Regions from separate parts of the Homo sapiens genome. Here region 2 is linked to region 1. Evidence: fine-mapped QTL for protein levels in blood plasma. A gene starts in region 1. The other region holds a variant in brackets. All regions are shown on one strand. Distances are from middle to middle.

Region 1 (14,911 bases):
GGTTCTCTCAAGTGTACTGAAGAGTCAGCTAAGTCACAATGGTTTTCTTTCCCCTAGTATTTTCTTTTTTAAAAAAGTGTTTTTAATATATTTTTTAAATCCCCTAGTATTTTCATTTGACTTTTTCTTACAGTTTCCATCTATTTGCTGAAAATGTTCATCTCTTAATGCATGCTGACACTTTCCCCCTAGAGCATCTAACATATGAATTATAGTTATTTTAAATTCCTCATCTGATAGCTTTAATATCTGGGTTCTTCCTGAGTCTGGTTGTGTTGATTGCATTGTCTCTTGACTTTGGTTGTTTTTATCTTGTTTTCCATGTATGTCTTCTAATTTTTGATTGAATGTTGGGCATCAGGTATAGAAAAACCAACACTATGGTAAATAGTATTTATTTCTGCAAATGGGCATGCCTCCTGTGCTAGCCTATTAGTGTTGGCAATGCTATATTATGAGATATTACATCCTCCTGAGTAAACCTACTTAGTAATTGAGGTGGGTTTGAATTTTGTTGTTGCTATGGTGACCTTCAGTACATCACTGACTTTAATTTTTCTAGCATTACTTTGTGCTTAGGGTGGAGGCTGGGGTTCCAGGATATTTTTCTCAGAGCTCCTGCTTCACCCTCAATTTTCAGTCTTACCAGTTTGTCTGTGACAAAGACTGGGAGGCCTATCTCCATGCTCTTGCCTTCTCCCCAGAAGTAGACTGCTGTTGCTCGTTACTTGGTGCTTGCTTGGTGGTGGAGACAGGGAAGGGAGATTCTCTCTTGTCCAGATCCAGCTTCAGTCTTAGGCAAGTCTGTCTGCCTAGGTCTTAGGAATGGGACTTTCTCAGTGATCCTGCTCTTCTTCCCAGTGACTGCCAAACTGCCTCATATCTGTGCTGGGTCTTGAATAGGACAGTTCCTCGCCCCTCCCCCACATGTTGGAGACCCCTATTCATATTGTCATATATATGATCCTTGACCCAGAACTCTTTCCTTCCCCTTCTCCAGGGGTAGAGGATGTTACTTCTTTTCTTTTTACCTTTTTCCAAGCTCCCCCAACTTTGCCAGTGCCCTGGAAACCTAAACTATATTTATAGGAGAAGAGAGTTCAGTCAGGATTTTGTGAATTTCCTACAACAACAACCACTCCCATTCTTCAGGTCCACACCACCAAAGGAGGTTCCCTTGGTCTCATTGCTCTGCTTCCAGACTTTCTCATGAGCATCCAGTGGAGGCCCAGTAGAAGGTCCTGAATGTGAGTGCAAACTCCCTTTGTGTGTGGAGTTCTCAGGGGTGCTATACTCTTGTGCCAGCCCACACTTGGCTTTTGCTCTTAATCGTAAAGTTTAGCCAAATTCTTCTTACCCACTTGTACAGTCCCAGCATCTCTTCCTCCTGGTCTCTGCTACAGAGAAATCAGTGAGGGTGCTCCATCTTTCCTTGGAGAAGCCTGACTTTTCTTGGATTTAAGGATATTTGGTTGCCCCATGCCCTCAGCTCTTTGATGAGTTCATGAAAAGTTATCGTGTTGTAGTATATCCGGTCTTTTTGTTTTGTTTTGTTTGTAGTTTATTTTTCTGTTATTAGGGTAGGGGAATAATTTTTCCTGCTTTCTACACTCTACATGGAACCAGACATGGTTTCAAATAGTTTATCTCTTCTTTACAAAAAAAAAAAAATCCCTAAAGTCTCTAACCGATGAAGAAATTTAAGCACAGAACATTTTAATCACCTGAAGTTATACAGCCAGAAGGAGTAGTGCTGACATTCAAGCCTCTCAGTAGTCTGATGGCAGAGGCTGCACCATGAACCACTAAAATACACCACTGTGCATGTTGCACATGGTCTACCTATGTCATTTTTAATTTACTCAGTGCTTTCCTGAGGGGTAGCAGTTTGCTTCCCATGGTTTGCTATTATAAACAATGCTGCAATGAAATTGTGAAGTTATCTCCCAAGGATAAGGTCCTGGACCTATTGCTGGGTCAAAAGGTATACTTATATAAATTTAAAATACCTACTGCCAAATAGCAACTAGGAAGAGTCCTTTAAAAATTACATTTAAACTCTTCAATGACAAAATTACAGAAGTGGTATGAAGACAAGCTTATTGCAAAAATTCAAATGTAAATGTTAGTTATATGCACATAACCTAGAAATGCTTAACAATTAAGAAAAAACTAGGTATGTCACGAATATATAAAATATATGTAGATTCTATTTTATCATTTACTACCATAAAATATACACAAAGCTATTATAAAAAGTTAAAATATATCAAAACTCATGCATGTAAACACTTACAGACCATACATGGCACCATTCTCAGTCAAGAGACATATAAACAAACAGAAAGATGCAGTATTAAATCATAACTGCATTAAATTAACTGTAGCATGTACTGTACTACTATAATAATTTTGCAGCCACCTCCTGTAGCTATTGCAGTGAGCTCAAGTGTTGTGAGTATCAGCTTCAAATGCTGTGTGATGCTCATCATCTCCCTTCAAGCAGTTCCTCTCTTCAGGAAATTGCATATCACAGCAAAAAGTGATCTTATGGTTCTCATGTATTTTTCATTGTGTTTGTTGCAATACCAAAACCTGGAATAATACCAGGGGACCCATACAAAGCACCACTAGGGATGCTGGAAGGGTTCCCAGGAAGCAGAGAAAAGTCATGACATTACAAGAAAAAAGTTGAATTGTTTGATATGCACTGAGGTCTGCAGCTGTGGTTGCTGCCATTTCAGACAGATGAGGCATCTTGTAAACAGATGACATAAACTTACGGTATTGATAAATACAGCACAGTGGTGCAAATGTGTTTTCCTTCTGTATGATTTTCTTAATATTTTCTTTTCTCTGGCTTACTTTATTGGAAGAATACAGTATATAACACATGTAACCTACAAAATGTGTGTTATTTGACTGTTTATGTTAACTGTAAGGCTTCTGATCAATATTAGGCTATTAGTAGTTACATTTTGGGGAGTCAAAAGTTATACATGGACTTTCGAGTGTGTGGGGGTCAATGCCCCTAACTCCCACATCGTTCAAGGGTCAATGTGTATATATATATATGTGTGTGTGTGTGTGTGTGTGTGTGTGTGTATGTATATGTATATATACATATATATAGATAGATACATATATATATATATATATATATATATATATATATATATATATATATATATGTCTCTGTGTGTCTTTACTCCTGGCCCACTCCAATCCTACCTCTCCTCCTGTACCAACCACTATTGCTGTCTGCCATGTATAATGGATAGGATTTTGAAAGCAGAGAGGAGAGCATTTCAAGCAGAAAGCACAGCATGAGCAAAGGAAGAGAGTTGGAAATGATACAACATGTGGCAGGGACAATAGGAAAGCAAGCCTGTCTGGAGCAGAGTTATGCAATGTCAGAGACAAGTTTGCAAAAGTAGAGGGAGCTACAGAAGCCGGGCAGAGGACTTGTGATATGATATAATTGGAAATACAGAGCTATTCTTTATTTTGGGACAGAGCAGTGAGATGATAAAGCTGTTGTCTCAAGATGATCCTGGCCAAAACAATTGCACATTGTTTGGATGGGAGCACATGGAATCAGGAGTCATGGCCAAGACTCTGTGGAGATAATCCGTGAAGGAGGAGGTGAAGGCCTGAGCCACATGGCCATATTAGACATAGAGAGGAAGGCGTGGAATAGGACTTCTCAATAAATGAACTGACACGTGACCCACTGGAAGTTATCAACATGTCAAAGAGATAACGAACTTGTGTACTGTGTGTATACAAGGCTGAGTATTACAACTTCTTAAGATAAATGTTTTATAATTTCCCCTGCTTAAATTCCATAGTCAAGTGTTATCATTTCTCCCCTACATACACTCTCGCTCTGTTGCCGCCCTCTGCCTTTGTTTCCTCACTTAGCTAAATCATAGGCCTGACTAAATCCAACTGTCTACTGTGTGACTGAACCACACAGCAGAACGTACCTGGAGAAAATCCGGGTATGTCAAATTGACATCAAGTGGAGCCTCAAGGCCACCAGGCATTAATACCAAACTGCCTTGTTTTCCCTCTCCCGTTCTCACTGTGACCTCTATTTCAGACCTTCACTGCCCTCCCCAAACCTCCAGCACTTCCCCTATCTTCAGTGTCAGCCCATGATACTGCTTTCTATTACAGTGGAAAACAGAAGCCACTGGAGGGGACAGGTGCCAGCTCCCACCATTAGCCACCTGGACCCACCTCTCTGGATCTGTGCCCACCCACTGTGCCTGCCCTCCTCTTATCACAGACAACCACTGGGGCTCCTTGGAAAGCCAACGTCTGCCCCTACTCATAGGCAACATCCTCCTGCACTCCCTCAGGCCACTACTCCAGAAATTCTCCCTCTGTCTCCTGTGGCAACCAATGTTTTCTTTATTTCTGGATCATCAAACAATCAACCATGTTGACTTGTCTTTCATGTTAAAAACAACAACAACAAAACCCTCTGGGCCCCTCTCTCTCCTTTAGTTACTATTGTATTCTTTTCCTTTGCTTTATGTGACAAGTTCTCCTGAAGAGTTGTTCACATTCATTGTTTGTAATTCCTTTCTTCTCCCTCTTGAAGCCACTCCAGTTGGGTTTTTACTACCACCTGTTCACCAAAACTACTATTACCAAAGTCTCCAAATCTAAAGGTGAGTGCTTAGGGATCATTACACCTGAACTGTCAGCAGGATGCCCTGTCAATGTACCTTCCAAACTGAGACACGTGGGAGGGGGAATGGCTGTGAGTAATGACTAGATCATGTCAGTAGGTGTAAACTGGGATTGTCTGGGGGCAAACCATGATATATCAGCAGATTCAAAACAGCTTTTCCTTCCGTCTTTTGAAACATTTCTACTCTGGGCCTGTGGACAGCAGTAATCAGGTTTTCTTCCTGCCTTCCTGACTACTCCATGCCAGTCTCTTTTGCCCATTCCTCCTAATCTCCTGGTCTTCAAAACAGTGAGATGCCCCAGGACTCAGCCCTTAAACCTCTTCCCTCCTCTGCACTCACTCCCACAGGGATCTCCTCCTGTCCCAGGGCTTTAAATACCATCAAATGCTAACGACTCTCAAATTTATATCTGGCCTGCATCTCTGCCCTGGACTTGAATAGCCATCTGCCCACTCTGTGTATCTGCAGACTTCCCCATTGTAGTATGTTCAACATTGAGCAACTCTTTCCCAAAACCTGTTTCCCATCTCAGATTATAACAACTCAGTGCTCCTAGCCACTCTGGCTGAACGCCTCAGTGTCATCCTTAGCTCCTCTCTTTCTCTCACCACCCTCAGCCCACATCTGCTGAGTCAGCAAATCCTGTTGGCACATACATCAAAAGAGACCCGGAACCTGCTTCTCATCACCCTCCCACCTCCGCCTTAGCGTGAGTCACCAGTATCTTGTGCTGGGATGGTTGTAATTGCTCCCGGAGTGGTCGCCTCCCTTCTATCCTTGCCCCCTTCGCATTCCTCGCTACAGCTCTCAGAGCCATGCTGTAGAAATAATTGGAAGCCAGATCCTGTCGTGTTTCTTCTGAAAACCCTCCGATGACTTCCCTTCTCATTCGTAAAAGCCAGTGTTCTCATTCTGTACTGCCTTCTTATTCATTCGCTCTAAGTCCTTTGCAGTTGCTGATCCCTCGGCTGGAACCAGATATTCACATGTGTTACTCCCTCACGTCTTTACTTGAAAGCCATGTCCCCAATAAGCCTATCCAAACCCTGACATCCCATCTGAACCTTGACACTTCATACCCCCTTCCTTGCCTTGTTTTCTTCTGGGCTTCTACCACTGGCTAACATAGTGTTTATCTTCTATATCTTACGTATTGGCTGTTTCCCCACCTACAATGGAAGTTCATTAGGACTAGGGTTTTTGTCTATTTCAGTTGTTGCTGATCCTCAGCACCTAAAAACGTGCCTGACACAGACTAGATCCAATAAATATTTGTTGAGTGAATTCTCTTGCAATTAAATGCACACAATGGAAGAGGAGATGTTGCAGCTATAATAAGCAAAGGAAACCAGACATTGATCCTTCCATGTGAAATACGACCCAAGCTTCTATATATAATACTTCACAGAGTGTTCTGCAGAGGATTAACAACACAAGAGACACCACAAATAAAAAGGAGTCCACAATCAAATAAGTTGGGAAATACTGCATAGGATACTTTTAGGAATTCAGATGGTGCAATCGCAAATAAAAATCTCTGATAAATCATTTAGGAAATAGGTTTCTATCTTTTTCTTTCTTCTTCCATTAGCACTTCATCCAGCCAATTCTTAAGTAGTCTTCAAGGCACAGTGTGTTGGCCAGGTGTGGTGGCTCATGCCTGTAATCTCAGCACTTTGGGAGGCTGAGGTGTGCAGATCACCTGAGGCCAAGAGTTTGAGGCCAGCCTGGCCAACATGGTGAAATCCTGTCTCTACTAAAAATACAAAAATTAGCTTGGTGTGGTGGTGGGCGCCTGTAATCCCAGCTATTTCAATGGCTGAGGCATGAGAATCGCTTGCATCCAGGAGACAGAAGTTGCAGTGAGTCAAGGTTGCACCACTGCACTCCAGCCTGAGAAATAGAGTGAAATTCTGTCTCCAAAAAAAAAAAAAAAAAAGGACTCAATGTATCAACAGTTGACATTCTTTCAGGCTGCCCAGCTTCACTGGACACCTTTCCTGCATTTGTGGAGCCTCTGACCTAACCGCCACAAGTTAGGATAGAGCATAGACCATTGAGCCCTACTGCAGTGAGGCTTCCATTGGAAGCTAGTTTTGCGAAGAAGCAGGGGTCATGCAAAGTCCATCCTGCAGGGCAGCGGTTGCAGAGGTTCCCATGGTCACATATAGTGTCCTGTACCAGAGGTGGGATAGGAGGAATCTGCATGTCGAGGTGGTAGCAGTGGTGGCAGTATTGTGATCTAATTTGAGCAGTATTGTGATCTAATTTGAGCAGTATTGTGGTCTAATTTGGGCATTGTTCCTGGCTTCTCTATCTCCTAACCCTAACCCTAACCAAGTGTTCCTCAAACATGTCTCAGTCAGAGCTCTTCTCTTAAGAAAACACCTATTAACTTCCAGCAAACATCAGCGTTCCTTTGGTGGTCTGCTCCACATCTGTGCTCTCAGAGCCCTGCTACAGTCCGCCACAGGCGCACCAGGGACTGAGATCCTGGCTGTGTCTCCTCTAATCCCAGGAATTCTCAACCCTAGGAAGTAGGACAAAGCCATCAGTATTGCTTTCAAGACCTAGATGATTGCAATGTGCAGCCAGAATTGAGAACCCCCAGGTAGGATAAACATTTTCCTGGATTCTGAACTTGGAATAGTGTTCTGAAATTCAGGCAGCTATGAAGAGCTGGCCCCTAAGTGCTGTGAGAGGCATGTCCCCATGCCCGTGTGGAATGCCACAGATCCAAGGCCAAGGCCATCACTGCAGGCCAGCGCAGCTGAGAGAGGAGTGGAACAACTCAGTGAGCAACCTGCATCAGGGAGAAGTCTTCTCTCCTGTTATGAAGTCCAGGTGCTGGTGAGCATCAGCTTCTGGATCAGCCTATCGGCCCCGCACCTGGGGACTCTGGGAAAAATAAGAACTCCTGTAATAGCATCTAGCAGACAAAGAGCTGGGAGAATGACAGGGGCATGAACGAGAAGAGCCAGCACTTGCACAGACTGAATGAGCTCCTGGGAGCTGGAGTGAGTGTTCTGTGCACTTTGAGAAACAGCACAGATCATTCAGCTTAGTGGTCATGATCCAGTCAACAAAGAAACTCTCTTTATTCTCCTCCCCCCTACCCCCGAGACCTCACAGATCCCACATGGATTTTGAAAGCTTTTATCTGCCAAATACCCGAATCTGTTATGTTATAATGTAATGTGGGTTTTTGGTGCTTATTAATTGTTTAGTAGGCTGTGTTGCCCAAGGAGCTTGTGAGAGTAGTGAGTAAATATGACCTTTCCATTAACCATTTCAATACACTGAAAACAGCTCTACTCCCTGTGTGACTCCAGCCTGGGAATTCACTTTGGTCTTTTTCTTTAGATTTTCTCTGATGAGAGCAATCCTCTAGCTTTTTCTCCACCTCTCAACAATCACATTTGAATGGTCACATGAGCTCATCAAGAAAAACACAGTTTTTCTTCTTCTTTAGAGGCACCTACCAAGGTGTTCTGACCAAATTAGAACAACAGGATGTAAATGCTTTCAGTACCTCCTAAAAGCAGTACTGTTCGCCCAATAATAACTCAGGATGCACCTGTTAAAGTGGTTCAAATGGTGGCATTTCAGTTTCTGAATGTCCTGGGGTTGTCTTGACAATGTTACAACACATTTGGGTCTTGTGTTATCCTCTGGAGGTGGAAAACAAAAGCTGTATTTTTCCCATTCAGTAGCCATTCCTCCCATGTCAGTTCTTATGTGCTCCCTGGGATGAGGACAGCTTCCAACGAGAGGCTTTGCCATGCACCTACAGGGCTGCTGTCGGAAGGGAGTGCAGCTCCTTGAAGGCTGTGGATTTGCAATAAGAAGGCAGCGTAGACCGGGCGTGGTGGCTCACGCCTGTAATCCCAGCACTTTGGGAGGCCGAGGTGAGTGGATCACGAGGTTAGGAGATTGAGACCAGCCTGGCCAACATAGTGAAACCCCGTCTCTACTAAAAATACAAAAATTAGCCGGGTGTGGTGGCAGGTGCCTGTAGTCCCAACTACTCAGGAGGCTAAGGCAGGAGAATTGCTTGAACCCAGGAGGCAGAGGTTGCAGTGAGCCAAGAGCATGCCATTGCACTCCAGCCTGGGTGACAGAGTAAGAATCTGTCTCAAAAAAAGAAGGCAGTGTAGCAATACTATTTTGCTAGAAGTAGTACTAACTTCTAACAATACAGACCAACATACCTATTGCCTTTTCTGCTTGGGAAAGGCCATGATTTTGAGGGGGGTCTCTCTCAAGCAAGCCATCCTCTGAGGGTAGACAAATGTGACTTTTCATCCATTCCTTCATGCATTCATTCAACAAACAGGTATCGTATTAGTCTGTTTTTGCGCTGCTGATAAAGACATACCTGAGATTGGGCAATTTCCAAAAGAAAGAGGTTTACTGGACTTATAATTCCAAGTGGCCGGGGAGGCATCCCAATCATGGCAGGTGAAAGGCACGTCTCACATGGCAGCAGACAAGAGAAGAGAGCTTATGAAGGAAGTCTCCCCTTTTTAAAACCATCAGATCTCATGAGACTCATTCACTATCATGAGAACAGTGCAGGAAAGACCTTGTCCCCATGATTCAATCACCTCCCACCGGGTTCCTCCCACAACACATGGGAATTGTGGGAGTTACAATTCAAGATGAAATTTGGGTGGGGACACAGCCAAACCATATCAGGTATTAAATGCCTGCTGTGTACCAGACATCACGTAAACACCTCTCAGGCCATGGGGCTTACAGTTTAGAGGGAAAGTCCGAGGCTAAACAAAATTCACACAACCAAATAATTACCCTTCTGTGAAGGGATATGGGGAGAAAGGACAAGATATTAGTGCAGGAAGCCTAACCCCAGCTGGAGGTCAGGGAATTTTTTACTGAGAACATTGTATTATTTCATCGCTGTACACAAATTCAGTTGTATCTTCACTTTTAGGCTTTCTGAGCTGGAAGCCACGCTGCTTGGCGATGGGAATCTAAGCAGGACCATGTGTGGCTGCTACCATATGAAGCAACATGTCAGTCCCTTGGGAGGGCTGGGAGTTCAGAGGAAGTGACGCTGAGCAGCCTGTGTGGAGGGGTGGCCGGGTCATGCAGGAAAGGCCGCATGTGAGAGAAGGTGCCAGGCACAGTGAGTCAGTTTGTTTTGGTGGAGCCTGGGAAAGAGATGTGGTTAGAAAGAGGGGTTCCTTCATCCAACACTTGTTGAGCCTCAACTGTATCCAGGCATTTGGGTGCTAGGGAGAGAGAAGTGAATGTGGCAAATAGCCCCTGGCCTTCGGGGAGCTTATTGATGGAGAAGACGGCCACCTTAACCAGCTAAGTCTGCAACAAAATGGCATCAAATGACAAAAAGTGTTATGCAGAAATTAAACAGCATGGCACTGGTGAGAGCTCAGTGGGCAGAGGGAGGCTGCTGCAGAGAGGGGCTTTGACTTGTCAATGTGGAAAGGCAATCGCCAGGCACTGAGGAGGTGGCGTGGGGGCAAGAGACCTGAGGGTGCAGGGAGTCCAGTCACAGAAGACAGGAAGGGAACAAGCACAGGGCACCACACACAAGGGCCTGAGAAGGGGAATGCTGGGAGGGTATCTAGAATCATCCCTAATGGCTAGAATCTAGGCGAGCAGAGGGCAGAGTGGTATGGGTTGAGATTGCATCTTTCCTGAAGGCCCTTGCAAGCCAAGGCAAAGAGCTGGAATTTGACTGTATGTGAAGGGAAGCCCCTGAAGGAAGTTAAGCAAAGGAGTGACACGATTCAATTCTAGCTGCTGGATGAAGGATGGATGGGAAGGACTTAAGAGTGGAAACAACATTCAGGAGGCTACTGTAGCAGACAGGAAGAGAAGGATATGGCAGCAGTGGAGAGATATCAGTCAGTGGGAGCTGTGGCTCAGAGATGGCAATGATTGGACTTGCTGATGGGGAGATCGAGTAGGAGGCGGGGATCAAGGCACTGCAATAAAGAAAAAGGGTAACAAAGTTTACAACTCAGAGGTCGGGGGTGGTGGCTCACACCTGTAATCCCAGCACTCTGGGAGCCTGAGGCAGGCAGATCACTTGAGGCCAGGAGTCTGAGACAAAGTTTGCAACTCAGGTTTCTGGTTTGTGCAACAGCGAGGAAGAACTATTTACTGAGGAGGGGAAATCGGAGGACAAGCAGATTGCTGCAGGGAAGCACAAGGTCAGCTTCAGCACACCTGCAGGACAAACAAGAGGAGGCATCCTGTAGATAGTGAGAGCTCAGAGAGAGGCCTCGGCTGCAAATGTACACTTTGGCAGCAGCATATAGATGGTGTTAAAGCCATGGCTATGGATGAGATCACCTAGGGAGTGATGCAGAGAAACAAAAGTGGGTTGGAGGCTGAGCGCTGAAAACTGACATCAAAGGTTGGGTTGAAGAGACTGAGGAGTGACGTGGGGATGGTAGGAGGTAGATCAGAGAAGCAGAAAGGACGGTGGATGCAGATGGGGCCAATGGCAGTTGTACCAACGCTGCTGAGAAGCCCAGGAAGATGAGGAACATAAAGTGTTCATTTGACTTGTCAATGTGGACATCTTCAGTGACTTTGAGAAGACTTGGTGTGTGGCAGGTTTGAGAGTCAGAGTGGCATGAGCTGAAGGATGAATGGAAAGTGAAATACAGATAATTTTTTTTTTTTTTTTGCTTATACACTGATGAAAATGGTCCAGTAGGAAGGAGTGATGAGTAACTTGTGCAGGAGAGAAAGAGAGGAGCTGAAGAACAAAGCCTTTGAGCAGGGAGCAGGGAGGGCATATGAGATTCCTAGGGCTGCTGTAACACCACACTCTTGGTGGCATAAAACCACGTACGTTTATTCTCTTACAGTTTTGGAGGTCAGAAGTCCAAAACCAGTTGCACTGGACTATAAATTGTCCACAGGACTGCAGGTCCCTCCAGAGGCTCTGAGGGGGAGTCTATTTCCTTGCTTTTTCCAGCATCTAGAGCTGCTTTTCCTGGCTCTTGGCCCCTTCATCTTCCAAACCAGCAGTTTAACATCTTCAAATCTCTTTCTGCTTTTGTTACGTCGCCTCCGGCTGTGTAGTCAAATTTCCTACTGCCCCTCTGTTATGAGGACACTTGTGATCACATTTAGGACCCACCGAGATAATCCAGGGTAATCTCTCCAGCTCACGACCCTTAATTTAATCACACCTGCAAAGCCTTCTGCCATATAAAGAAACAATCAGATGTTTCAGGAATTAGGACCTGGTTATCCGTGAGGGGCATTATTCTGGAGGACTGGGCTTTGCTAGGCAGGGATATACTGACTTGCTCCTTTGTGGGCAGAGGGAAAGGCGCCTGTGCAGGGGTGTGTAGATTTGGCGGGGGAGGGATAAGGGAGCTCATGCTTTTGGCTTCATTTTTCTCAGAAACATGAGATAAAGCTGGCAGCTGAGAGGATGGCGACTGACAGGGTGGGGTGGGGAGAGGAGAGGAGGAGCAGTGTCAGTGGAAGTATGGAAGCATCTCAGAGAGTGGGGCAGCACACTGCCTAGGCAGAGGTAGTCAGTTTTAGGGCAGGGGTGAGGAGGAATTTAAGGCTTATTTTTACCAGTGTGAAGGAGACATGCGGCTTGACTGTGCGATTTTTCTCCAGCAGAGTCTGGCTACCTGGTTGAAGGCACAGGGAACCCAGAGAGACAAAGCTCACCAGCATCTGTGGGGAGAATGTGGCAGGGCAGGAAGTGAAGGGTGAGACTCCATGGGCTGTAACTTGGCCAAGAGGCAAGAGAAGACATAGCAGTCTGTTGGGCTGCGAGGGGATTGTAGAAGATGGTGGGGTGGGTAGCTCAGAGGTCATGATGAGAAAGAAGCATTGCAGAAATGGGTTTCTTGAGCAAACAGTCGAGGAGGTGCTGGGCAGAGTGGATGCCTTCAGATTTTGGAGATGGTGCAGATGCTGGTGATGACAAGTGCTAGGGTCTCCCTTTTGGGTGTGAGTTACTGAGGGAAAGGTAGATGGAGCATCCACCTGGATGCTGAAGATGCCAGGAATGAAAGACAGGAAAGGGGTGGCCAGGAACACTGTGAGCCAGGAACCAAAGTCTTCACTGAACCAGGAAGAGTGATGTGGAAGAATGACAGGAACTGGCAGGGAAGAGGGTGCCATGCCCAGTGGCATCAATTTAAGGAGTACTGAAGGTTTTGTAGGATTTGGAAGGAGCAATGGGGAACCAGGAAGGCATCAGCTTTACTTCCTGGCTCTGAGGGACTCCAGGTGTGAAAGAATGAGCAGCCAACACTTGAGAGAGCTCCTAGAACTGTGTTTCAGTTAAAAACGAAAGACACTGATGCTGTAAGAGTGTATGGCGATGCTTGTGGGAATTTCCCAACAGCACCGTGGAAGGGTTTGGGAGGTTTGAGGTGTTGGAGAACACAGGGATTAGAGTTTGGCAATAACAGTTATTGGAGAGAATCCCTGGATTTCTAGTGTTGAGTGAGTTTCACAGGGACACAAAGCATGATGCAACCACATCACGGAAGGCCTTGAATGGCTGCCCCAGGCATGACTATTTCACCCCATCGGCCAAGGCCATGGGGACAGTGGTGGCGTTTTGGTCCAAGTTTAAGCAGCAAACTGTCTTGGTCAAAGGCAGGCTTTAGGAAAATTAATTTTCCAGCCATGTGAATGAAAGAGACTCTTAGAAAGCTACTGCAATAGGCCAGGCTTAGTCTCCGTTCAGGGTATGAACACTGAGAATGCTGGAAGGAAATCATGGTTACAGGAAATGCGGTTGAATTTTGAGACACACGGGAAAAGAGCGAGCAATACAAGATGCCTCCCATGTTTCAAGCTTAAGTGGCTGGAAGAACAGACTTTGGAGGGAGATTGATGGTTTTGGTGTTTGGCAACCCATGGTTAAAGGTTCATAAGTGGCTGGGCCTAAGGCGGGAGCAGAATAATGACAGGTGAGACAGTGGGCGCGTCCCCTGTTGCCAAGCCAGGAGTTAACTACCTGGGGCTTCCTGGATTGAGGATAATCAAAGAGCAGGCAGGATCCCGGAGAGCAACCCGGTGATTCTAATTTAGCTTCAGATCCCCGGGGTAGGGCTGGAGCTTTCGATTACCATCTGCTGTAAGGTGTGTGTGCAGGTGCGAGTTATGAGTCGCTGGGCAGGGATGCCTTCGGGCCATTCCACAGGCTGAGTTCAGCCATAGCAGGCGTGCTGTCATTCATTTTAGTAACCGGCATAAATGAGGGCACAGTAGGACCCCAGTCAGTCCTGCTAGGTGCCTTCTTGTCTAGAAGAGGCCGCTTTGACTTTCTTTCCTCTTCATCCCTGAGTTGAGGCCGGGCAGGGGTAACCAGCAAGGGGTTCACTTGGGAAGCGGGTTTCATCACCCCTCTGAGCCCAGGTCGAGAATCACAGTTGAGCTCTGGCCAAGAATCTAACTAATTCAGGTGCAAACCCCACCGTCTTTTGCCCGATTTCCTATATTCTGCTGACAGCAGCTCTCTCCTTCCTTTGGCCTGAAATCGCGGGGTGCTTGTGTGAGCTGAGATTAGCCGAGGCTGACCTGCCCCTCCGTGGCTTCCCGCTGGCCTCATCGTTACTTCGTGTGTTCACCGCCGCTCTGAGCAGAGCGGGCCCCTGGGGAAAGGGGTGCGGGCCTGGGTTGCGGAGGCGCAGGAGCCTCGCGGGATTGGGGCGAGCCGTCCCATGGCGGGAAGGCAGGAGGCCGGACTCGGAAGGCTCTCCCAGACTCGGTCCCTCGCTCCAGCCCTTCCCTGCCGGTGCGCGGAGCCGGGGCTCGGGCGGGTAGCGGTCGCGCGCCGGCGCGGGCGGGCGGGGAGAGGAAGGGGCGCGGCCTCTCCGGGGCGGGGCGCGGGGCGGGCGCTGCGAGGGGACCGGAGGCCGCGGCGAGAGCGCGCCCAGCCCCGCCGCGATGCCCGCGCGCCCAGGACGCCTCCTCCCGCTGCTGGCCCGGCCGGCGGCCCTGACTGCGCTGCTGCTGCTGCTGCTGGGCCATGGCGGCGGCGGGCGCTGGGGCGCCCGGGCCCAGGAGGCGGCGGCGGCGGCGGCGGACGGGCCCCCCGCGGCAGACGGCGAGGACGGACAGGACCCGCACAGCAAGCACCTGTACACGGCCGACATGTTCACGCACGGGATCCAGAGCGCCGCGCACTTCGTCATGTTCTTCGCGCCCTGGTAACGCCGCGC
Region 2 (14,911 bases), 41 kb after region 1:
TCTCGTCTTAGGTGTGGTCATTGTAAGACTCTGGCTCCTACTTGGGAGGAACTCTCTAAAAAGGAATTCCCTGGTCTGGCGGGGGTCAAGATCGCCGAAGTAGACTGCACTGCTGAACGGAATATCTGCAGCAAGTATTCGGTGGGTACTTGGATGGATGCTTATGGGAGCTCTCAGTATGGGGGCAGATCCCAAGGGAACTGTGCCTCAACCACGATAACTCACTCTGCTCTCATCTTCTCAACAATGTGGTTTTTATGTCCCTTTGAGTTGTTTGTTTGGAGAAGCAAAAGAGATCCTCTCTCAAAGGGAAGGCATTCTTCTTCGCCCGCTTTGTAGTTAGTATCCATGTTTCAGTGCAGGTTTTCAGGCCTTGCTGTCTGAGTAACAAGGCCGTGAAGTAACAGACCCCACGCCATAGACTGTGGGGCTTCCCACACCGCGACTCTTGATGATTGACCAGTGGTCTGTAGCCTTTGCCATAAATACCCGAGTCGCTCATTTTTCACACATAAGCCAGCATTATAAAATGCAGTGGCTGAATCTAAGAATCATTTCAACATAACCTCCTTTCTGAAAGGGCCATGCCAGCAAGTCGGTCCTGTGCTTGGGTTAACTACTGCCTTCATTCCAAGCTGTTAGCACAGTCTGATGGCCTGGAAGATTTGTCATTTTTTTTCTTCTTTGTTATTCAGACACTTTTGGAGCCCTTTAGATGGAGAATAGACGTAACCCAGACATAGTTTCCTTATCATTAAAAGATACCAGTTGTTTTTTGTGCCCTAAAATTCTTAGAAACGAGTTGCCACTGAAACATGTATCCTCAAGAGGATCTTGCTCTCATGGTCTGGTCTGCAGACCACCAGGGCATCGCCAGGGAGGTCATTGGAAATGCAGACTCCCAGGCCTGCTCAATCCAAATCTGCACCTTCAGCAGATCCGCAGGTGATCGTGTGCACAGTAAAGACTGAAAGCGTCTGCTTTAGGGTAAAGTCGTTCCTTTGAGGCTGATCTTTAATGATGTCATTTTGAATTCAGAAGTGAACACACAGCCCCACGGCTGTGCTTTCTAAACAGTAGTCTGCTCCTGTTTTAATGGAATATACACCTTTAAAAATTAGCCACAGAATTTTTCCAGCCACAACGGTAGGAGTGTATCTGGTTTTATTTAGGAAGCAATTTGCATGTGATCTGGACCGCTGGTTTGCAAACTTTTTTCTTTTTTGTTTTAAGGTACGAGGCTACCCCACGTTATTGCTTTTCC[G/A]AGGAGGGAAGAAAGTCAGTGAGCACAGTGGAGGCAGAGACCTTGACTCGTTACACCGCTTTGTCCTGAGCCAAGCGAAAGACGAACTTTAGGAACACAGTTGGAGGTCACCTCTCCTGCCCAGCTCCCGCACCCTGCGTTTAGGAGTTCAGTCCCACAGAGGCCACTGGGTTCCCAGTGGTGGCTGTTCAGAAAGCAGAACATACTAAGCGTGAGGTATCTTCTTTGTGTGTGTGTTTTCCAAGCCAACACACTCTACAGATTCTTTATTAAGTTAAGTTTCTCTAAGTAAATGTGTAACTCATGGTCACTGTGTAAACATTTTCAGTGGCGATATATCCCCTTTGACCTTCTCTTGATGAAATTTACATGGTTTCCTTTGAGACTAAAATAGCGTTGAGGGAAATGAAATTGCTGGACTATTTGTGGCTCCTGAGTTGAGTGATTTTGGTGAAAGAAAGCACATCCAAAGCATAGTTTACCTGCCCACGAGTTCTGGAAAGGTGGCCTTGTGGCAGTATTGACGTTCCTCTGATCTTAAGGTCACAGTTGACTCAATACTGTGTTGGTCCGTAGCATGGAGCAGATTGAAATGCAAAAACCCACACCTCTGGAAGATACCTTCACGGCCGCTGCTGGAGCTTCTGTTGCTGTGAATACTTCTCTCAGTGTGAGAGGTTAGCCGTGATGAAAGCAGCGTTACTTCTGACCGTGCCTGAGTAAGAGAATGCTGATGCCATAACTTTATGTGTCGATACTTGTCAAATCAGTTACTGTTCAGGGGATCCTTCTGTTTCTCACGGGGTGAAACATGTCTTTAGTTCCTCATGTTAACACGAAGCCAGAGCCCACATGAACTGTTGGATGTCTTCCTTAGAAAGGGTAGGCATGGAAAATTCCACGAGGCTCATTCTCAGTATCTCATTAACTCATTGAAAGATTCCAGTTGTATTTGTCACCTGGGGTGACAAGACCAGACAGGCTTTCCCAGGCCTGGGTATCCAGGGAGGCTCTGCAGCCCTGCTGAAGGGCCCTAACTAGAGTTCTAGAGTTTCTGATTCTGTTTCTCAGTAGTCCTTTTAGAGGCTTGCTATACTTGGTCTGCTTCAAGGAGGTCGACCTTCTAATGTATGAAGAATGGGATGCATTTGATCTCAAGACCAAAGACAGATGTCAGTGGGCTGCTCTGGCCCTGGTGTGCACGGCTGTGGCAGCTGTTGATGCCAGTGTCCTCTAACTCATGCTGTCCTTGTGATTAAACACCTCTATCTCCCTTGGGAATAAGCACATACAGGCTTAAGCTCTAAGATAGATAGGTGTTTGTCCTTTTACCATCGAGCTACTTCCCATAATAACCACTTTGCATCCAACACTCTTCACCCACCTCCCATACGCAAGGGGATGTGGATACTTGGCCCAAAGTAACTGGTGGTAGGAATCTTAGAAACAAGACCACTTATACTGTCTGTCTGAGGCAGAAGATAACAGCAGCATCTCGACCAGCCTCTGCCTTAAAGGAAATCTTTATTAATCACGTATGGTTCACAGATAATTCTTTTTTTAAAAAAACCCAACCTCCTAGAGAAGCACAACTGTCAAGAGTCTTGTACACACAACTTCAGCTTTGCATCACGAGTCTTGTATTCCAAGAAAATCAAAGTGGTACAATTTGTTTGTTTACACTATGATACTTTCTAAATAAACTCTTTTTTTTTAAAAGTCTGGTCTTTCCTTCAATGTTACAGCAAAACAGATATAAAATAGACAATAAATTATAGTTTATATTTACAAAAAAAGCTGTAAGTGCAAACAGTTGTAGATTATAAATGTATTATTTAATCAGTTTAGTATGAAATTGCCTTCCCAGTACATGATTGTGAAAAAGACATTTAGAAAATATTCTAAAATTTAATCTGAGCCTCACTTTCTACAAGGGAAATCATGATTTCCGTTCATAAACAGCATGCTCATCCCCCTAACACCATTCTTATAAGCTGGGCACCCTCATTTTATTTTCTTCGTTGGTTCTAACCCTGTGGCGTGGTATGCTGTATAGTAAAAAGGCAGAGAACCACTTTACTGAAAAGGTACTAGAGCCGGCAGTCCAGAAGTTAATGTGCTGGTCAAAGAACCGTTCTGGTAAAGAAGAGGTGAGCATTGCCTTCACGTGTTACACGGTTACACACCCCTTGTAGCCTCACCTCAGTGTAATCAGTCTACTTTTGGTACTAGCAAAGAGTACAGCAAATGGAGGATTGAGGTGTAGAAATGGTATGTTTTGGCTGAAATAAGTGTATTTTCACACCAACAAAACTCCAGCACGAACATACAACAGCAATGACTGAGACAAGGGCGCCCCGTGGAGCCCTGGCTGTGGCCTGGGCTGTGCGTCCTGTGGACTTCTGGGAATGAACTGAACAGAGGCGTTCCCCCCACTTCCCCGATTTCTGTTCTCTGTAAAATCTACCTTTGATAGACAGTACTGAACCAGCTGATCCTTTAGCCAAGAATACATTTAACTCCTTTGAGATTATTTTCCCTATTTACTAACAAACACCCCAAATAGCTTGATCTACAGCTAAAACTAATTTTGGTGGGTTTTTGGGGGAGGAGGGTAGGAAGAGCTTCACGGTTATGTTTCTGCAGTTACCAGACCTTATGCTACAGACATCCAAACTCAGCTTGCTACAGACCAACAACTACTCACGTCATTTACCAAGTGAGCAAATTATTAATGAGGTCCTTTAAAATCTTCCTGGGTAATAAGGCACTGGCATGAGATAGTTTCAAAGTCTCATCGTCCCACCTCCAACTGTGCTTCCGTGTTTTTTTAAGGCAGATGTAATCTAGGAATCCAAGGCAGAATGTGTGTCCCCAGCATCTGGTTTCGAGTTAGTGGCATCCACAAGCTCTTACAACCATATTCCTGTATTTTTTCAGAATGACATTGGAGTTGTCATCAAAGTAAAGAACCGAGATGGCATTTAGCTTAGTTGGCGCACAGCACGGTTTGGGGACATACTCGGGGTTCATAAGGTGAACCTGTTCCAAAACAGAAGGGGAGAAGGTACCTTAGAAATGACACCTGGTCTTGGCTTACTCCCACTTACAAAACAAAGTCTCCGAGAGCTCACCAAGGTCTGCACAATCGCGTGGTTGGTTGCATTCATGTGTGCGTTGAGTGGGAAGGAGCATTCTCCATCACAGTAATTGGCAGCATAGCCCTTGGGTGCAATGATCCAGTCCTTAATTTCATGCAAAGGAAGCAACAAAAGATGAGCATGCACTTCTCACACTATTTGTGCTTTTCAGGAATGCTGTGAAAAGGTATTTTTCACATTGCACAGGCAAGGATACAGACGCAGGAAGGCTTAGGAATTTGTCCAAGTTCACATTCAAGTGGCAATGCTGGGAAGTGAACCTGGTCCATCTGACCCCAGAACCCTCGCTCCTTGCAGAGGCCCACAGGGCCTCAGCTGCTACCTGGAAGCACGTAGGTTGCCAGCAATATGTGCTTGGACCCAAGCAAGCCTCTCCAGGAGCCCACGGTGCTCCTGCGGAAGTAGTGCCACCTGCATATGGAAGCTACCTTTTATCGCTCACCACCTGTGATTAAAGTTGCTGCCTTTCTTACAAACTAGTGATGGTTCTCAGGTACGAGGCAAACGTGTGCTCTTCTGCATCGTTTGGTGAGCTGGTTTGCAGCCATTGGAGATGTTAACCATTAGGTAATTTTTTTCCAACCCTGTCTCAATTAAAATTTGTTTAAATGCCCAAATAAATGTATGTCCTATGGGCTTTGAAAGGATGAGGTGAGAATATTGGGAAATGTGGCTATTGATTTTTGAGGGATCACAGAGCTCAGGCACCCTAGGAAGGTGTTGGAGCGCCTGGTGCCCCACAGACTAAGCTTCCTCTGCCTTACTCCAGGAGCCTGAGCATTTGGGAGGGCTCCTCAGGACTTCCACAGAAGGAAGCAGCTCAGCCTTCAATCAAGCTCTGGGTGTTTGGTAATGGCTGCCACCATTCAGATGAGAGTAAACTGCTGAGAAAGGACCTTTATCCCCCGTGTCCAGAGAACTCACCTGCCATCCCAGGTCTTGGAAACTCACATACAGCTCATGCTTCCTGCAGGCTGTTTTCAATTCACTGCTGTTGTAATCTGTTGGAGGAGATCAAAAGATGCACCCATCAAAAGATGCACCCATCAACTCATTAATTCCTTCATAGAGAGTTTACCACATGCCAGGCTCTGTGCTAGGCTCAGGATAGCCTCCTAGATACAAGTATGGTCACCCAACAGCTACATCAGGTTCCTGACTGTTGGCTTGAATGTCTTACGGAATCCGTTTTGTCTACCCTGGGGTCAGTACTGGGAGCAGGGTGACTTGAATGGACACCCTTAAGCAACAGAGGTGTGTTGTGAGCCCTGCTGCATGCAAGGCCTATGGAGGCGTGGGCCGACTTGCCCAGTACACCCCAGAGGCGCCAGACCGGGAAGGCATCACATTCACATGATCAGACAACGCTACTAGGCAGGATTTGCTGCAGTCCAAACAGGGAGCATTTTGAAACTGCACAGGGGCTTTCAAGACAGCTGCCGGGCCAGAAGAGTATCCTGAAGGAAGAGTAATGGTGGAGTGGGGCCAAACCAGGAGGCCCAGGAACGGGGGAGAGGGAGACACCACGCAGGGGCAATGCTCTCTCTGGCTGTACTCCCACCTCACTGCCAGGGTTGAGCTCTTGTGTGCTGATGCAATAACACTAAGCCAGGGGTTCCTCAGGAGACTCTGCTGAAGTGCATGTACCCACCCTGTGCAGCACAGGGGCCACTAGCCTGGCTTAACTGAATCACCAGCAAGAGCACTGGGGGTGCCCCAATTCACTGAGGCCCACTGGAGCGACTCTTACGTGACATGCCTTCTGCCTGGCACCACGGCCAATAGACGGTAAGTCAGACATGGCTTTCCTCCCTCCAAGAACTCAGTGAATGAAGGGGTGGTGTAAAACAGACACACAAATAACTCCAATACAAACCAGAACATGGATGCTACGGGCAAAGGCCATAGGCAAATATCACACAGGCAAGGGCCATAGGCAAATGTCCCTTCAGAGAAGGGACAGTTCAGAGTGGGAGTGAGAGGAAGAGAGAGGAGTTCTGCTGGAATGGATTTAAGGATGTGTCAAGCAGGGTCGGATGAGATAAAGCTGGAGAAATGAATGGCCTAGGCTGCCAACCACAATGCTTCGGACTTCCCACCAGAGGCACAAAGTGAGCCTTTGCAGGGTTCTGAGCTGCAGAGCAGCATTTCCCGCTGTGATTCGAAAGGATTAATCCATCTGGAGTTGTGTTGGAGAGTTCGAGAAACGACGGAGAGAGAAAAGGCAAGGAGAAGGCTTTAGAGAAAGGTCATCTAATGTGGGATGTCAGTGGGTGTAAGAGCCTAGGTCATTTGCAGGCTATCCCTTCCCTTTTCAACTACATAAGCCAGTAAGTCACCTAATTGTTGAAAGCCTGTTTGAACTTGATTTTCTAACTTCTAACTCCCAGTCTTCCTGGCTCTGAAGCAGGAGAGAGCGTGCAGATTTCATTAATTTTTTTTTTTTTCTTTTGAGACAGAGTCTTGCTCTGTTACCCAGACTGAAGTGCAATGGCACGAGCTCGGCTCACTGCAACCTCTGCCTCCTGGGTTCAAGCGATTCTCCTGCCTCAGTCTCCCGAGTAGCTGGGACTACAGGCGCGAGCCACCATGCCCAGCTAATTTTTTGTATTTTTAGTAGAGATGGGGTTTCAACACATTGGCCAGGCTGGTCTCGAACTACTGACCTTAAGTGATCTGCCCATCTCAGCCTCCCAGAGTGCTGAGATTACAGGTGTGAGCCACCATGCCCCACCAGATTTCATGATTTTTTAAGGAAAAGAGACAGTGACTCAGGCCAGTGGCCTATACTGGGAGAAGAGATGGGGCAACTTTTTTAGGTGGTTTATAATTCTAAATTTATTTATCCTCTCCACCTGCCTATGTTACCCAACAGAACCACCCTGCCTTTAACTTTAAGGACCCCAGAGAAGCCCTGGAGGGAAATTTTCACAATGCAGGACAAGGACTCTCTCAGTAAAAACAATCAACCAACTATCACCATAAGACAGAAACTTCCTACTGAAAAGAACCCCTGAACAAAAATGAATCAGCCACACAAAGTCTCTCAAGAGGATGGCTGGAATGCAAGGGAAGACCCAGAGGACCCCAGAGACTGTGGATAAGAGTCATCTGAACTAAGCTCTAAAGGAAGAATACCAAAACAAAACAAAACAATAACAAAACTAAAAACAAAAACTAGAGGAAAAAAAAGGAAGAATACCTAAAATAATGGAAGGAAGAAAAGAAGGACTAGAAACCTTAAAACAAAATTATGGGGAAAAAACATGAAAAAAGAACAGGTAGATGTAAAAAGAGTCAAATAGAACTTTATAAAAACCATAACCATTGAAAATAACAATGAAATCAGATTAGATATAACTAAAGATCAGATTAAACAGGTTAAACATTAGTTGTCTAATTAACAGATTAAACAGATTACTTAACAGATTAGTTATACATTAAACAGATAATCATCAAATTACACATAACTGAAGACAGAATTAAAGAATTCAACAGTATATTTGAAATCTCTTCAAATATAGCACAGAATCAAATGGCCAAAATACATGACTGTCTCTTTGTAAAGAGACATGGAAGAGAGAATGAAAAGTCCAACAAATTTCTAATAGGAATTTCGGAAGGCAGTAATAGGGAGTAGTAGTATTTGAAGACATAATGACTGGGAATTTTCTACAACTAAAGAAAGGCAAACATCTTTAAGTTGAAAAGGCCCAAAGAGTTCCAAGAGGATCAGATAAATTCTTATCTAGCCACATGTAGTGAAATTATATCAAACACATAAATTCTTAAAAGTAATCCAGAGATAAAAAGAAAATTACTAAGAAACACAAAATGGATAGCAAACTTAACAAAAATACACATTAAAAAATTAAATAATATGAAAATGATGCCATCAAACCTAGAATGCCATACCCAGCTGTAGTGGATATTTACTGCTTTTGCTACCCAGCTTTTGGCAACACTTCGCATGTGGGGGAATGCCTAGATAGGTGGGACTCAGAGCCCCATTTCCCACGACAGATAGCTCCCCTCTTTGTCCCCTAGCATCTGAAGTACGGACTCATGACTTCATCAAAGCCAATCAAATGTCTCCACCCTGCAGTGTATAACCTGAGGGAGTGACTCAAAGGTGACATCAAGAATGGGTAGTACGGCAGCCAGTGTCTAGGGTGATGACCACATTGGAGGGATCCAAAGCACATTGTTCCATGACTAGATCTGAGCCTTGATTTCCTGAATTAAGTCTCCAGCCTTTTTGTTGATTGGGTAAGTTCCCTGGTACGCTTTTCTCTCTCATTACAGTCTGCTTCTACTGCATGCAATCTAGAGCACTGTGATAGTTAATTTTGTGTCAACTTGATTGGACTATGGAATGCCCAAGTAGCTGATAAAACTTTTTTTTCTGCAATGGGGTTTTGCTCTGTCACGCAAGCTGGAGCACAGTGGCACAATCATGGCTCACTGCAGACTTGACCTCCTGGGCTCAAGCAATCCTCCCACTCAGCCTCCCAAGCAGCTGGGACTACAAGAACGGGCCACCACAAGCTAACTTTTAATGCAGAGATGGGGACTTGCTATGTTGCCGAGGCTGGTCTTGAACTCCTAGCCTCAAGCAAGCCTCCTGCCTTGGCCTCCCAAAGTGCTGAGATTATAGGTGTAAGCTACTGAGTCTGGCAACTGTTAAGACATTATTTTGGGGTGTATCTGTGAAGGTATTTCTGGAAGAAATAAGTATTTGAGTCAGTAGACTGAGTAAAATAGACCTGCCCTCACCAACACGGATAGGTATCATCTCCTCGGTTCAGGGCCCAGAGAGAACAAAAAGACAGAGGAAGGGCAAATTCTCTTTTATCGAGCTGGGTCATTGTCTTCTCTTGCCCTGGGACATCAGAGCTCCCAGTTCCCAGGGCTTTGCACTTCAGGACTTATACCAGCAGCCCTCCCCAGTACTCAGGGCTTTGACTTCCAACTAGGACTTACACCACTGGCTCACCTGGTTCTCAAGCCTTTGGACTCAAGACTGAATTACACCACCAGCTTTCCTGGTTCTCCAGCTTGCAGACAGCAGCTCATGTGACTTCTTGGCCTCCGTAATTGCCTGAGTCAATTCCCATAATAAATCTCCTCCTATATATATATATATCTCCATATATCCTATTGATTCTGTCTCTCTGGAAAATTCTGACTAGTAAAAACCCGGACTAGCTAAATTATTATTCAATAGTTAGGGCATAGAGAGTACAGGGTGGCAAGTGTGCTATCTCACATAGCGTTGACAAGCTTGTCTGGATTTTTTTGTTTTTGTGGGTTTTTAAGAAATTTTTGAGACAGGGTCTCACTCCATTGCCCAGGCTGGAGTGCAGTGGTGTGATCATGGCTCACTGCAGCCTCCAACTCCTGGGCTCAAGTGATGCTCCCACCTCAGCCTTCCGAGTAGCTGGGTGTACATCACACACCTGGCCAATTCTTTAAATACTTTGTATAGATGGTGTTTCTCTGTGTTGCCTAGGCTGGTCCTGAACTCCTGGGCTCAAGTGATCTTCCTGCTTTAGCCTCCCAAGGTGCTGGGATTACAGGCGTGAGCCACCTCGCCTGGCCTTGTCTTTCTGTTAAGGTATCTTCTAAGCAAAAGAGGAGCCTTGGGAGTGAGGCATGAGGCCATCTGGGGTGAGAGAATTTCCTAGAGTGGGAATGACAATGTGAAGGCCCTGAGGAAGCAGCCTGCTTCACCTATTCCAGGAACAACCATGTGGCGGCTGTGATGTGTTTATTAGCAACCCACATCCTCTATCAACCTCCTGAGCACACAGCCAGATGACATTTCCCACTGCAGTTAGCTGTGGCCATGTGCCTGGATTCTGCCCATGAATGTGGGGAAGAAGGGATGTGTGGTGCTGCCAGGCCTGGCCCTCCTAACCACCTGCCCCCTACCCCATCAGCCTTCCACTCACTCTTTCCTCTCCTGCCAGCTGGGTGCAGCAGGGGAGTCTCCTGAAGACCCCAAGGTCCTAACGCCCTGCGCTCCTAAAGGTGTCCTGGGTTAGATTAGATGATAAACTGCATGATCACACAACTTACAGTCTTAGCCTGGGATTTTCCCCATCCAACCTCATTCTGCTTGTGAAGTAAGCTTCCTCCAAAATACCGTCTCGTGCTAGGGACCAAAATCTCCATGAAGACCATCTTGGCATCATTTGGTCATGTAAAAAGCAAAGATTTCTACAAACAACTTTCTTTCCCAGGTCAAGCAGACATGGGCAGTGTGAAAATAATAAATATATCTCTGGTCTTTGTCCCCAGTTCCTGGCACCAAGCTTTGACAACCCTTGGATTTTCCTGAGTGTCTTTGTTATGCTCCTGAGGCCCTAGATTGTACACGGTGAACCCCACACACTCTCTAGGACCTCATTAGCTTCAGGATGGGGGCTAGTTACCAAAAAAGCCAAGCACAGGATTAGGGGGTTGGAACTTTGGCTTAGCCTGGCCTCTGGGGGGCTGGAGATGGAGTTCAATCATGTGACCAATGATTCAATTGTGCAGAGCAATTAAACCCCACATAAAAACTCCAGACACTGAGGCTCAGTGGAGCTTCCAGGTTGGTGAACATACTGATGTTTCAAGAGGACGGTGCACCCAAAAGGGTGTGGAAGCTCCAACCACCCATGCCTATCCCCTTGACCTTGCCTAAGAGTCTCTTCATTTGGCTGGTCCTGAGTCATACCTCTTATAATAAACCTATGATTGTAAGTATAGCACTTTCTTGAGTTCTGTGAATTGTTCCAGCAAATTATCAAACATGAAGGGCGGTAATGTGAACTCCCAAATTTGTAGGCAAGACAGACAGAAGCATGGCTGCCCTGTGGACCTCACTTGTGCCTGGTGTCTGAAATGACAGCAGTCTCCTTGGGGACCTTGCCCTTTCACTTGGGCCTGTGCTAACTCCAGGTGGCATCAGAATTGAACTGAGGCCAGATGTGGCGCCTCATGCCTGTAATCCCAGCACTATTGGAGGCTAAGGTGGGAAGACTGTTTGAACCCATGAGTTTGAGATCAGCCTGGGCAACACAGACCCTGTCTCTACAAGATATAAAATTAGCTGGACATAGTGGTGTGTGCCTGTGGTCTCGGCTATTTGGGAGGCTAAGGTGGGAGGACTGCTTGATCCCTGGAGATTGAAGCTGCAATGAGCCCTGATTATGCCACCATACTCCAGCCTGGGCGAGAAAGCAAGACCCTGTCTCAAAAAAAAAAAAAAAAGAAAAAAAAAGAATTGGATTGAATTGCAAGACACTTAATTGGTGTTGAAGAATTGCTGGCAGAACACAGGCAGAGACCACCACTTCATGTCTGGATTTCCAGTTTCTTTTTCTGCTGGATGGAACCAAGATGACATAGTCAAAGGGCTTTGCTTCTAACTTCACCAGCAGTTCTGGGTTTCTGTGAACCTGCTGTTGATTTGACTCTCTCAATGCTCAACAAAGAGAACCTTCTCTGGAAGAACAGCTATTTCTTTTAGCGCCAGACACTGGCATTTTTGTCATTAAGTAAGGATCAGGGCCAGAGAGAGGAAAAGGAGGAATTCAACTCTCCTGTTTTTCTTCCTACAGATACTCTCAGGCCATGCTTAAATTTCCTTATAATTCCATGTTAAGTGCTGGCAAAGAACGTATAAATATTTATGAAGGTTGATGCTCCTTGGAATACTTGTGTCTGCCACTCAGGGTCAGTACCCTGGGTTCTGCATGGAATTATACTGACACACTTTTTTTTTTTTTTTTAAACAGATTGACAGATTACAGATTACAGAAAAAACTTTCCCCTCACTCCCACTGCCCCTGGTATTGGTTTTGATGAATGGGCTGAAGAGGGCCAGTGGAAATGTATGTGGTGACAATTCAACAGGAACATGGTCACTCCAGTGGGACAAAGAGAGGTAACACAGCTTTGCCCCAGTGGATTCACCAGTCAAGGGCAGGGCAGAGAAAGGAAGTGAGACAGCTAGAGAGAGGCGACAAACCAAAAACCAGAGAAGCTGACCCAAGACAGAGGAGCCTCCCCCACCACCCCCGCCGCCAGGACAGAAGCTCTCAGTGTGTGACTTGTAGGTGGCCTGTGCCGAATACTGGGGATCATCAGGGAGTTTCTCTAAAGTGCGGGGTTCTCAGCTCAATCCCAGACCCATGAGTCAGAGCCACTGAGATCAGGCCCCTGGCTGTCCACATGCGCCTGTGACACCAGAATTGGAACTGCTGCCCTCTAGACAAGAGGCTCACACACAGGTAGCGCTACTGCCCTGCTGAGACACAAAGTCTGTCTTGGGACCCCAAGGCTCCCCAGCATCCCCAGACACAGCTGCAGTCAAGGCCCAATATTGGTCCTGAGAGACATTTTCAAGGGCTCTGGCTTTTTCAAAGTTGAATACACAGTGAAATCTGGTCCCCCTCAAGGGCAGGGGCACCAGCCGCCCAGAGGCAATTTTCCCCCTCAAGACAAGGCCCCAGGTGCTCATCCAGGGCAACTTGGACAAGCAGGGCCCAGCCATAGGTGGGTTTGGGCAAAAAACTGTTGAGTGATCAGGTGACACAGATGACAAAATCCAACAATCATAAAAGCCCCCCCAGGACGAATTCCTTCCATAAGCAGAAGGTAACTCCCTGGCCTGCTCTTACACAGGCAGAAACATTCCTCTCACCAAAGATTTCTGAGCTTTGAGAATGTATCAGATGTTAATTGCCTTTAGCAGCGCGGCTTTCAGTCCCATTTAATAAACTGCTTCCGCAGGGAAACCTTCAGGTACAATTAGTATTAAAAAGCCCAAATCCTTCCTCTCTTCTCCAAATGAACATTACAGATATTTGAACATGGGTTTTAAGTGGAGATTTTTCTTTTCTAGCACCAGAGTTGAGTTCTAATTTGTCCTAAAGCCACTGAAGCAAAAACCATGATAAAATATTCTGCTTTCCTTTATAACCCCTCAATACACACACACACACACAAAACTATTTGTAGGAAAAAAATGGCTTTGGACATGAGATGTAAATGGGTTTCCTCTCACAGTGTGGGACAGGCAAGTGGGGCCCATGATACAGGAAGCTTCTACAACTCCCTTCGGGGATGGAGATGAACTCTAAAGATCCAAGACAGGCCGGGCGCGGTGGCTCACGCCTGTAATCCCAGCACTTTGGGAGGCTGAGGCAGGTGGATTGTTTGAGGTCAGGAGTTTGAGACCAGCCTGACCAACATGGTGAAACCCTGTCTCTACTAAAAATACAAAAAATTAGAGGGGCATGATGGCACATGCCTGTAGTCCCAGCTACTCGGGAGGCCGAGGCAGGAGAATTGCTTGAACCCGGGAGGCAGAGGTTGCAGTGAGCTGAGATTGTGCCACTGCACTCCAGTCTGGCAACAGAGTGAGACCCGTTTTTTTTTGTTGTTGTTGTTGTTTTTTAAAAAAAAGATCCAAGACAGACATGCCTGTTTCCCCTAAGGAAGGTTCTTCAGCAAGACTCTCCATGATCTGTAGTGGAAAAGAAGGTGGCAGAGACAGGCACCATCCCCCTCAGAAGGAGAACAGAGTTGGGCAGAGAGGTCCCAGCTGTGGTGCCCAAAGCGTGTCTTTATGAAGCCTTTATGTTTCCAATACGTTGCCTTCATTTTTCCAATACTTTGCCAAAGGGAGGCTTGCATCTCATTTAGGCCTTCTGCACGATGCAATCAGTGGTAGAGAAACAGGTAGAAGTGTCCCATCCATTCCCGATGGCGGGACCATGTGGAAGTGCCTGCCATTTTCTACCATAAGAGACCGGGGTGTTCCAATCCAGAATTCACCTCGGAATAAAGCATCAGGTCCAGCCATGGCTCTGAAATCCCTCTCCCAAGCCCCAGGTGTGTCTTTCATTATCTGTCATTCCTCCATGTTACCTGGGGGCCAGTACACCTGGGAGGGGTTGGGGGCTAACTTGAAAGGAGCCATATGGAGGTGCATTTTTCTGGAGTCCAGCGGATGGGAGGGAGGACACAGTGATGGAGTCTTCTTGTCCTTGAGACACAACTGAGCTTTCACATCTGAGAGTCCTGTTCTGAGGGTGGTGGTGGAGGGGCCATAGCTCCCTTCCTGGGGGCCATCAGGGGTACATGCTGCAGCTCCCAGCACACACGCCTCTGGCTGATCCCCTTTCTCTGTCCTCTAGCATCTTCCTGCCCTTGCTCCTCCTGTTGCAGGTGCACGTTCCACACAGGCTCTGCTGAGCTCCTACAGTCTGCTCAGTTCTGGTGGGGAGTTCTCATCTCAGTTGCTAGGCCTTGGACCTGACAATCAGCTTCCTTGCTGATAGCCTCTGCTCCCCGACCTTAAGTCCTGGTCTCCCCTGTGATGACTGAGGAGACATTCCATCTACAGGAGAAAACAAATGGGAAGGCTGCCGGGGCCCATGTGACAGTGACGGGGCAGGGCATCCTAATCGTCCCAAGGCAAACTGAAAAC

Alleles and levels. Positions count from the first base shown, and alleles are read on the strand shown. Strength reflects both the effect of a copy and how common the allele is.
In carriers of allele A in region 2, the plasma level of the protein whose gene starts at base 14,625 in region 1 tends to be higher than with G alone (weak association).

What was found. A credible set is the group of variants that fine-mapping cannot tell apart. PIP is the posterior inclusion probability: the model's chance that the variant is causal. Protein levels are from antibody-based Olink assays in UK Biobank. Linkage for the fine-mapping came from a reference panel and not from the study's own genotypes, which makes the PIPs less certain.
Region 2: its variant is the best candidate, but not a certain one, in a credible set for the plasma level of the TXNDC5 protein (UK Biobank, PIP 0.55). The variant lies in the coding sequence of TXNDC5. If it changes the protein, the assay may bind it differently, which can mimic a change of level.

What each region holds. Positions count from the first base shown.
Region 1 is chr6:7,910,502-7,925,412 of GRCh38, reverse strand. TXNDC5 (thioredoxin domain containing 5) reads left to right here and starts at 14,625. Exons shown (of 10, transcript NM_030810.5): 1 at 14,625-14,899. The coding sequence starts at 14,637. All of the region lies in intron 4 of BLOC1S5-TXNDC5 (BLOC1S5-TXNDC5 readthrough (NMD candidate)), which reads left to right. RefSeq lists enhancers at 4,654-5,853, 12,351-12,500 and a silencer at 14,341-14,770.
Region 2 is chr6:7,869,589-7,884,499 of GRCh38, reverse strand. It overlaps BMP6 (bone morphogenetic protein 6), which reads right to left. Exons shown (of 7, transcript NM_001718.6): 5 at 5,350-5,426; 6 at 4,399-4,509; 7 at 2,772-4,306. The coding sequence ends at 4,157. TXNDC5 (thioredoxin domain containing 5) reads left to right here. Exons shown (of 10, transcript NM_030810.5): 9 at 12-141; 10 at 1,234-2,983. The coding sequence ends at 1,356. BLOC1S5-TXNDC5 (BLOC1S5-TXNDC5 readthrough (NMD candidate)) reads left to right here. Exons shown (of 13, transcript NR_037616.1): 12 at 12-141; 13 at 1,234-3,250. Among named protein-coding and RNA genes, the nearest start is that of TXNDC5, 34 kb to the left of the region's middle. RefSeq lists an enhancer at 1,235-2,434. The variant G/A (reference allele first, on the strand shown) is at 1,265.